2 separate regions of the Homo sapiens genome follow, and region 2 is linked to region 1. The links come from fine-mapping of genetic effects on gene expression. A gene starts in region 1. The other region holds a variant in brackets. All regions are shown on one strand. Distances are from middle to middle.

What was found.
Region 2: its variant is fine-mapped to the expression of ATP5MC2 in adrenal gland (GTEx, PIP above 0.99).

What each region holds. Positions count from the first base shown.
Region 1 is chr12:53,673,133-53,678,441 of GRCh38, forward strand. It overlaps ATP5MC2 (ATP synthase membrane subunit c locus 2), which reads right to left and starts at 2,951. Exons shown (of 5, transcript NM_005176.7): 1 at 2,921-2,951. RefSeq lists enhancers at 2,653-3,102, 3,213-3,442.
Region 2 is chr12:54,354,559-54,359,925 of GRCh38, forward strand. All of the region lies in intron 1 of GPR84-AS1 (GPR84, ZNF385A, ITGA5 and GTSF1 antisense RNA 1), which reads left to right. It also overlaps a transcript of GPR84 not described here. Among named protein-coding and RNA genes, the nearest start is that of GPR84-AS1, 3.6 kb to the left of the region's middle. RefSeq lists enhancers at 2,386-3,211, 3,212-4,036, 4,037-4,861 and silencers at 4,419-4,658, 4,669-4,738, 4,889-5,068. The variant G/C (reference allele first, on the strand shown) is at 2,364.

The DNA of each region.
Region 1 (5,309 bases):
ACATGGTGAAACCCCACCTCTACTAAAAATACAAAAATTAGCCAGGTGTGGTAGCACGCGCCTGTAATCCCAGCTACTCAGGAGGCTGAGGCAGGAGAATTGCTTGAACCCAGGAGGCGGAGGTTGCAGTGAGACGAGACCACGCCACTGCACTCCAGCCTGGGTGACAGAGCGAGACCCCATCTCAAAACAAACAAACAAACAAACAAACAAACAAAAAGTTGCCCTTTAGAGTCTTTGTAGTTTTGGGAGATATTTGTTGAAGGCCAAGACACTGGAAGGTCTCCAACAATCTCTTTGCTGATCCCTGGAAGTATCTGATTCCTGAAAATACTTCAATTTCCTGTATTAATAAGATGAGGAAGATCAAGGAGGAACTCTGTTATTAGTCTATCCAAAAGGTATTAGTGGCTGGGCGCAGTGGCTCACGCCTGTAATCCTAGCACTTTAGGAGGCTGAGGCGGGTAGATCACGAGGTCAGGAGTTCGAGACCAGGCTGACCAACATGGAGAAACCCCGTCTCTACTGAAAATACAAAATTAGTCGGGCATGGTGGTGCATGCCTGTAATCCCAGCTACTCAGGAGGCTGAGGCAGGAGAATTGCTTGAATCCAGGAGGCAGAGGCTACGGTGAGCCAAGATTGCGCCATTGTACTCCAGCCTGGGCAACAAGAGGGAAACTGTCTCAAAAAAAAAAAAAAAAGTATTAAATTGTGTCTCCCCAAGATCTAAAGAAGATCTGACACCCTATAGGTATCTAAGTTGGTAGAAGTGAACTTACCTCAAACAGAAGGTGAGTTAAAAACCTAAAGGCAGGGTTTCTCCAAGTGAAGTGAGAAGCCCATCTGAACTAGAATTATCTGGGTGGTGTACGTATTAAAAAATGCATATTCTTGGGCGCAACTTGGACCTTCCTGGTCAAGATCTCTGGGGGAGCTAGGTTCAGTGGCTCATTCCTGTAATCCCAACACTGAGAAGCTGGGGCGGAAAGATAACTTGAAGCCAGGAGTTTGAGACCAGCCTGGGCAAACATCAAGACCTCATCTCTACAAAACATAAAATTAGCCAGGTGAGGTGGAAGTGCACCTGTAGTCCCAGCTACTCCAGAAGCTGAGGCAGGAGGACTGCTTGAACCCAGGAGCTGGAGGCTTCAGTGAGCTATGATCACGCCAGTTGTCCAGTATGGGCAACAACGTGAAACCCTGTCTATAAACAAACAAAAAAGATCTCTGGGAATAAGGCTCAAGTGCCCTGTATTTCAAACAAGTTTCCCAGATGATTATTAGGTATACTTAACGCAAGAGCGTGACCCTAAACCCAGTCTTGAAACTGTGGTAGTGGTAGAGGATAGACTTGAACTTGGATCTTTTAAGTTACATGCTTTCTAATATGTCACAGGCTGAAATACTCAGTGAATGCTTAGGGCTATTAAATACCACTTCATTAAATGAACTGAACTCAGATTGTCCCAGGTTAAAACACTTCTGAATCCAACATCTTAATTGCTCTTAATTTATTTTTTGCCCAGGCTATTGTGGAACTCCTGGCATCAAAAGATCTTCCCACCTTGGCCTCCCAGTGTTGGGATTACAGGTGTGAGCCACCACACCCAGCCTTAATTACTTTTAAGTTAATGGATGTCTTCAACTCTTGTCCTATCTAGAACTCTGATTTTTGCCTATATGTAACTCTAACCCAATTTTGCTGCCGTACTATTCAGGTTTTCTTGGGTCAAAATCCAATAGTTCTTTAAGGCTTTTAGAAAAAGAAGGGGTGGTTCTTTTCTAAGGGAATTATACCTTATTATCTTCTTTGTAAAATGCAGCTCTTAGGGGGATTAAGTATGTTCATTTACAAATTAACATACATAAAGAGTTTAATGTGGTGCTGGCATATAATAAACCCACAACAAGGGGTGGCAATTAAGTGATCCCACCATTGGCTATCTAACCATGGCAACTCTGCAATTGTTAGCCTACAACTTGGGCAAAGGCACTATCCAGAATCAGGACTCCAAAATCATCACGGGCTTTTTCCTCAGTGTAGATGAGTCACAGGGGTAGTAACTTAACTATTCCTTTCCTTAAACCTTCTTTTCCTTGTAACAGCAGAATCTGGGGAGGTTAATTAATCCTTCACAGGAAAGCTGGCAGGCAGGGTCTCATGCTGGCCCCACTAGCTTGGCCTTACCCCACCTTTCTGGGCCTGCTGCCTCAACAGAAACCCTCATCTCTAGCCCACCATTTGTGACTTTTACAACTTCACCAGCGTGCCGGGATGCGAGAAAGGTACTGGTAAATAACTAGTGATTCCAAAGCAACCAGCCTCTCTCTTCTGCCTTAGCTATCCCAAGCCACAACCTAACGGGAGGCGATGTTTTGGCTTTTTTTCCCACTTCTACCATGTTCAAGGTTTACTTTTTAAATTGAGGGGTGCTGACTAGAGGGATTGGTGACTTTAGACGATCCACTATCTCCATTGCTCGGAGCACCTGAGGTTCTGGGGCCTAAAGTCTGGAGATTTCAGAATAAAGAAGGCACAAGTCAGGATGAGAAGAGAAAGCAGAGATAGGAGGGGAGAGCCTGGGGGTTGTCACAATCTGAAAGGGCCAGAGGGCGAGAAAAGAGTGTTTGCAGGGACTGGGTGGAACAGGTGAAAAGCAGCACTCCAGGATCTAACTTTGGCCAGCTCCAAGGTATCCTCCCCCTGCGAGACATCCAAGATGGCGCCAGGCCCGCGCGGTTGGAGGTCACCGGCACGCGGAAGAGCCAACTCTAAGGCTAAGGGATAGCGGAAGCAAGAAAGGGCGAGAGGACCAGGGTGGGAGCACGCAAGGTAAGCGCCTCAAAGCATCCGCGCAAGGTGAGGTGTCCCGCGCGCGTGCGCAGCGCACAGAGGGCTCTAGGTCCCAAGGCCTTACCTGCTCCCACTGCAGAGAAGACAGAGAGGGGCGGAGCAGCGGGAAGAGCGAAAGGAAGGCTCAGCGCATGCGTGACCCGGGCCAACGAGTCGCTCAGCCACGGATAGAGTGATTGCAACATACAGGATCAGCTCAGGCATCACAGCGCCGCCTGCCAGGGCTGTGGCGGTATCCGGCCGGTTGCTCCACCTGGCGTTCGAGAGGAGAAACTACAGGGAGCGCCGACTGCAGAAATGAGGCCAACTCCGCGGAGTAAGCCGATCCGTAACGTGGACTGCGGTTTGGTCTGTACCGCGTTTGGGATCTCGGACTTGCGTCCCCTTTCCGAGCATGCGCAGTCGTCACACTGCCAAAACAAAACTCCTACTCAGAATTCAGTGTTAACATACGGTCGGGATTGGGGTTCAGTGCCTAAAATGCAGCAGGAGGAAGATCTTGGGAGTCCTGCTTTCTGTCGCGCCGGGACTCTGGCATCACTGGATGGCAAACCGGCTCCATGGGCGAATAGTCAGCAAAATGCCGCAGCTGCTTCTGGTGGCTTCGCCCTTTCCCCCACTCCCCGTTTCCTCCTTTCCATTCCGGTGATAAACCATGAGAGAAGCAGCATCAGCGAGCCAGAAGATAGGGTTAAATATGATCCGAATCCCTCTTTCCTGGCTCCTGGGACAGTCTAGGAATAACGGGCACCTGCGACCCGCTGTAAGGTTGCGAGGTCACTCCAGGCTTGCCCGAGCCTCTGCTCAGGTTTCAACTACGCGAGTTGGGATAAGCAGCGCCCTCCCCTCCCGCCCCCATGCTCTCCTGAACGTGGGTTTTCTCTCCCCTTTCGCTCGCCCTTCCCCTGATGGAAGGAGGTGGGGGAGGCTTCCTGGCCCTCATCTTTCCTAGGCCTCCTTGTCTCCCAGACAGGACCTGCCCTGCCCTTTGGAACAGGGCGACAAGGCCTATCCAGTTCCAAACCCCTGCCGTCCCTGCATCGTGCTTGAACGCAGCACGAGAAAGACGGGAAAAGCTCACCAAACCCCATAAAAAATAAAAAATAAAAAGAAAGCCGCGGCTGTAAATAAAGGCAAATCCGCCACTCTCTGAGGGGCCGTTTGTCCTCCCCTCCTTGGCCCCGTCCTTCCCGCCGCCCCCTCCCGGCTCCCGGGCCCCGCGGCGCCCCGGCCCCGAGCTCCTCCATTTAATCGGATTTGGGAGAAGGGGAGGATAAATCACGGCAGCAGCTTTACGGTCCCGGAGGAGAGGCGAGCCGCAGACAGGCACACCCCGGCCGGCGATAAAAACCGCCGCTGAAAGCCCACGGAGCAATTTCCCGGGACCCCGAGCGACGCCATTACAGGAATGTAATTTTGCCCGGATGAGGCCCCGAGTTTAATTATCCTCGCGGAGGAATTTCAATGCGGCCAATCCATCTTGCAGGCGGGCGGCAGAGGGATTTATATGGGCCCGTTATTTCACACCGATCCTCCATCTGCATTTTTATGGCCCTGAGCTCCTGAAAGGGAGGGGAAGGAGTGGGGAGAAATAGGAGAAGCGGGCGAGAAGAGGAGGGTGGTAGACTGCCTGTCTTTCCTAAATTCGCATTTCCAGCTCCATCAGGATTCTCACAGGTTCCTCTGAAATCCCCAAATCTCCAGTTTTAGTTGTTGATTGCGCCCCGAGCGGGCAGGTACGTGGGAAATGGAACTGGGATCTTTGGGAATCAATCAACAGGTATTTATCAAGTACCAAGTGGTGCCAGGCACTGTGGAGATGCTGTTAGGAGAAAGACAGGCTAGCAAAGACACAAGTTTATCCCCTGAGGTCTCCAGACATCTCCATTCCCACCAAAACGGAATTCTTTTAAGCTGTCAGCTTCACATCCTCAGTGGCAGAGAAAGTCCACAGTTCTTAGGAGCCACCACCCCCAAACGGCTGTTGCAGCTGTTGCGACAATTTAGACACTCAGATATGGCTAACAATCCCAGAGGAGGATCAGAGAAGGGGCCTGGGAGGAAGCTAAAGCTGGCTCTTTCCAAAAGTTGTTACAGCCTGCGATGTTTAACACTCCCTTGCCCTCATAGAATAATGGGTTCTGCGTTCAGACAAATCTGGGTTCCCAAATTGCTGTGTGATCTTGAGCTAGCTGTTTAACCCCCTCTAAATCTATTTCCTCCTATGTAAATTGAGAAGAATAATAGTACTTATCACACAGCCAATATTGGGATAATACATATGAAGCTTTTAGCAAGGTACTTGGTACCCAGTAAGAGTTCAGTAATTGCTAGCATTAAAATCATCATCGTCACCACCACCACCACCACCACCACCATCACCACCATCATCACCATCATCATCACTGCTTCTATAGTTAAGGGCATTGCAACTCAATTCTGCACTGCTACCT
Region 2 (5,367 bases), 680 kb after region 1:
AGTAGCTGGGATCACAGGCATGTGCCACTATGCCTAGCTTTTTTTTTTTTTTTTTTTGTATTTTTTAGTAGAGACAGGATTTCACCACGTTGGCCAGGCTGGTCTCCAACTTCTGACCTCTGGTGATCCGCCCGCCTCGGCCTCCCAGAGTGCTGGGATTATAGGTGTGAGCCACCATGCCCGGCCTATGCCTTTTCTTTTTCAATCTCTTCCCTCTCATTTCACCCTACCTCCCTTAGTTGTGCTTCTCTTTCTGGTCACCTTCTGCCCACCCTGCCCTTCCGTGCCATATCATAACCCAGTATGATTCCCAGACCTCCCACTAAAGCAGGGACTCATTCAGAGCCTCTTTTCTCCTTTCCATCTATTCTTGGAATCTTAACTCCCAAAGGTATCCTCTGGGTCAGAACAGGGTTCTGAGGTGGGACTGAGGTAGGAGGGATGGCTGGGCTGAAGAGTGGCAGAAACAGGACAGATGGAGCAGCGTCCAAAGAATTTGGGGAGGGGCGAGAGGGAGACAAGAAGATGGAAAGAAACAAAATGAGAGAGAAAAAGTGATTGAGAGACCGAGGCAGAGGCTGAGAGACGGTGAGAATAACAAACTGGGAGAATGAGAGACACAAAGAAGGAAGGCAAGACTGGGAGCAGAGAAAAAGAATAGAGTTGGAAACAGGAAAGTCATAGCAAGAGAAGGCCACTAGGGAGGGGCCAGGCAAAGGGCAGCCTGGCTCTCCGGGGCTCCCTCATGCCATAAGTCCTGTGTGTGTGAGTGTGTGTGTGTGTGTGTGTGTGTGTGCGCATGGCACATTTGCACAGGGGTCTGCGGTATGGATAGGATGATTTCCACAATATTTTTCCACTTCTTTCAGCAGTCTCTTTCCTTGAGGCACCCCATACTAGCCCCCCATCTCCCAGTATTCCAGATGCTCAAGGGACCATTCCAAAGGTATTTCCACAACTCGGCAATCCTGGCTTTCTCACTTGGAATGCAGGCCTGCTGGAATGTCCAGGATCTGTAGAATGAAGAGCCCCATCCCCTCACTGCCCACCCCCCATGCCTGCCCACCAGCTGCTCCTGTCTATCTTCTCCCCATTCTCCTTGTATCTCCCCTTCCTCCACACTGACCCCTCCCCCAGCTCTGACCCCCAGCCTGCCTGGGGCCTGGGTCAGAGGGGAGACAAAGACAGGATTTATCACCAGTATTGAGAAGTAGCCAGAGACCAGGGCTGAGGGCAATGGCTGACCTCCTTCAGATAGGAGGGAGCACTAGGCCGGATGCCGGGAGGCTGGAAGGCTGGGTTCCAGTGGCTGCTGCTCACAACCCCATTTTCCCACTCCAGCTTTCCTCTCTCCCTTGTCTCTGAAGACTTGGAAAACAGAGAAGAGTATGACCCTGAGGTGATTTTAGGCCTCTGAAGGAAAACCTGGGAGAAAGGAAGAGATGAGATTGATATCTTAGGGTTATTCTTTTATGGATATGGAAGAGGATTTGGAAACTAGAGGCAATCAGGCACCAACTGTTTCCAGGGCTGGGAAAGAGTTCAGGCCTAATACTGCAACAGATGAGAGGGACTGTCCTCTAATATAGAGAGGGACTTCTCAAGAACAGGCCCTGGTTGCCAGTAGGAAAGGAAATAGGGGTGATTATGGGTCCTGAAAGGTGGGAGAAACAGTCTCACCTGAAGAAAGAAGAAAGAAATGAAATTTACCAAGGGCTAATTCTAGCTCTAGCCCCTCTGAAAAAGTCTTCTTCCCTAAGATCCCCAACTCCCTCCTGAGAGGTACAAGGAGCAGCTGGTCCTTTACAGTAAATACACTATTGGCCCGAAATTGTCTCTACTCAGCAGACAGGGTGTGTGCTTGAGGAGAGGGAACAGTATGATCCAGGAGTTTCCGAGAAACCAGACTGTATATCTTTCAGTGGACAGCTCCCGCAGCTTCTCTAGCTGCCCTTGGAAGCCCACCACCAGCCCCTCTAGAATCTCAGTGTGTCAGAAGCCTCCACAAACCCAGCTCAGAATCTTTCATGCCCCTTCCAGCCCCTGGCACCCAACTTCCTGCTTCTTGCCTTTACCCTATTGTCCTGGAAGACGGCTGCTAGAGTTACCTCCGAGTGAGAAGACAGTGGAAGGATGAGAAACTGAGGGATCTGGGAGTTACCAATCTACCAGTTTCTCACCACAATCCCACCAAGCATTCCCACCCGGGTCTGGTGAGGGAAAACTTGTGGTCTCTCTTAAACTCCTCTGCAAGCTGAAACCATTCTGTCAATTTCTGATGCAAAGCCCAAAATTGGAAATTTTAGTGGGAAGGGGTTGTGGATTGCAAGAGAATGGGAGAGGACAAAAGAATTGGGTGGAGG[G/C]GGGTGGTGTGGGCACACCAAGTAAGGAAGAAACAGGAAAGGGGAGAAGAGAGCATGTCTTTTTTCCTCAGTCCCCCTTCCCCCAGTTGAAGAGGCAGATTTACAGCCTTGGTTTGGAGAGGGGGTGAGCATAAGGAAGACAGATCTGCAGTTCTGCCCTCTGAGTGTCTGGGTACTTAGCTTTAACTCCCCCATTAGCATCAATCCCCATCTTGCTGCCCATCCGTCTTCTGACATCAGCTCCTTCCCCTCTCTGTAGCCCAAGCTTTCTGACCCTAAGTGGCTCTTAAAGGGCCAGTCTAGACCCTTCCCTCCCTCCTGCCACTCCAGGCAGCAGTCTAGTGTATGTACGCATGTGCATTGTGGCCAGCCTTGCTAAGGCCATAGCGGTTGGAGGGCATGGGGGATGGGGGCGATGTGTGACTCTTCCCCAGCTCTGTTTTCCTTAGGTCTCCCTTATATTATGGACCTCCATCTTTGTTCACTACCCACCCAAACCCAGAACAAGCCCTTTCACTGGGTTGGGGGGTCACAGACACATGGCTTCTAGAGCTGAGGGCTGCAGAAGGTATGTGGATCCATAGGCAGATCCACCACCCCTTCTCAATTTCCTGGAGGCCCAGAGCAAGGGATGTCAAGAAGTATTGGCTGTTTTTAATTCTCAGCAGCAGTGAGGGTGGGCAGGTTGGAGGCCAAGACTCCTAGGAGATGCCCTGAGCCCCACATTCCTAGCCTCCTTTCCCAGGGATCCAGGCTGTGGTCTGTGGAGGTGGGGGATTTCAAATCTTCCTTTCCTGTGAGGATGGTGACAGGCCAGAGAAATCTGCCTCTGAATTTTCTGGCTTATCTCCCCTATTCCTCAGCAACTGAGCTTAAGGGGACAGGGGGGAAATGGGCTTCTCCCCACCTTCTGCAAAAATGTTGTAACTGCACACTAGGGGCTATACGAATGCCAGGATGCTTGGAAAGTTCCTCCCCTATCTGCCTTCAATCCTTTCTGCTGCAAAGCTCTGCAGTCCTCTGAGGGGCTCTACAGGATAGTCAACCCCTCTTCCTGATACCTGAAACCCATTCCTCACCTCCGTCTGTGCTTCCTTCTCTGGCTCAGGAGGAGAGGGAATGTGTGGGTGGGGCCTTGGGAAAATGGCCATGTTAAAAATAGGAGCCCCCAGCTGCACCCCCCAGTGGACCCTTATTTATCACCTTCTAAATCTCACTCTCAAAGAAGCATAAATATTCCTAATTCCTGAAGGCCACCCTGGACTCATAAATTTAACTGGGGAGGTGGGCAAGGGGAGGAGTGAGGTGCATGGGATGGGGAGCTTACTGCAGCCTTGAGGAAGCAGAATATCTCCTGGGGGAGGCGCCTGACTCGTCTGTCCCCTTGCAGACGCCAATGGGTCTTCATAGGGGAGGAGGAGGAGCCTTTCTGTCAATATTTCCGTTGGGGAGTAGTCTTCTCTCACGGCACCTTTCCTCCCTCCCCTAAAAACAAACAAAAAACCAAAAACCTACCTTCCTCCTGGTCTTTCCCATTAGTTCTCTGTCGCTCTCCCTCTCTCTTTTCTTTGCTATTACCTTCCAGTTGTCCTTTCCTGCTTCTCCCTCTCTCTCACCTCCCTATTGCGCCTTTCTCTGTCTTTGCTTCTCTAATGCTTTTCCTTTTCAGAGCCATTGTGTGAAAAGGAAATTTCCGTCTCTTATTCAGTCTGGATAGTGAGATTTGAAAAGTCCCTCTCTCGATGCCCGATTTCCCTGCTTCAGCCCGTGTGGCCCCTCAAATGTGTCCTTTCTCTTCATCTCTCCTTCTTTCTTCTCGGATCTTGGACAAATTACCCAACCCCCCATTTAGCTCCTTAACCCTCTCTCTCTTCCCCTGCCTTCCTTCTCTCCTCAACCTTCCTTTCTTTCTGTCATCCTTTTGCCCTCTCAGTTTCCCCTTCGTTCCTCAGCTCGGAATCCTCTCTCCCTGTTCAGTCTCCTCTGCTCTCCCTGTCGGCCCCCATCCACACCCCTCAAACTCGACTCCTCGGCCCATGTGTACCCTCAGACCCCATCATCCCTTCAGTTCCCGTTACCACCACACCCCAGTTTCCCCTCCCAGTGGACGAAAGAGAAGGGAGGAGGGGGCCTGAGGAACAGGTAGAGGGAGCGCCATTCCTTGAGGGGAGGGAAAGAGGGGAAAAAAGCGGGGGAGAGGAGGAGGGACGCGGCGGGAAGGGGAGGGGAGGGGCATCCTCACTCCTCACTCCCTAGCAGCTGCACCCCCCTCCCCGCGGCTGCTGAGCCATAAATCAGGGCCAAGGTGGTTTGGCCAATGGTAGAGTGACTCGTAAATCGGCCTGTCAAGCTCAGCCAATGAGAGGCGGCGTTAAATCAAGTTCTGTCAGCGCTTGGCCAATGAAAGGCCCTGGGCTGACCATAAATCTGCCTGTAAGAGACAGCGAAAGAGAGAGAGCGTGCGAACGAGCAAGAACAGCCCGGGCGGGCGACTGGGGAGGGGGCGGGGGGAGCGCGGCAGCGGGGATTGGAGAGACGAGCTTAGGAGAAAAAAAAAGGCGATAACAGAGGTACAGGAGATGAAGACAGCCTACAGGAGAGACGGACAGATGGAAAGAGACAAAGAGAGGCAGTGAGAGATAGCGTCAGAAAGTCAGGGATAGAGCTCGGACTCGGGCGAGAGACTGACAGAGATAAAGAGACAAAGAGAGACAGACAGTGACTCACACTCGTGAGCATAAAGGGCCTCCAAACACACACACATCCCGAGACACGCATGAGCAACGCACCACGAGGGACCCAGTGCATGGCCTCACTCGCCAAGCACAACCGCAAGAGAGAGAAGGCCTCAAGAAAGCCTGGCTTTTCTTCAGTTTCATTCCCCTCATTCAGCCCTTATTGAAATTAGGGGCTGGGGTGGATGTGTGGGCCGTGGCGGGTGGCTGCTTTTTTGCTAAGATCTGTCCTCTATGGTCTTAGACCCCAGGATTTCCTTCTGTGTCTC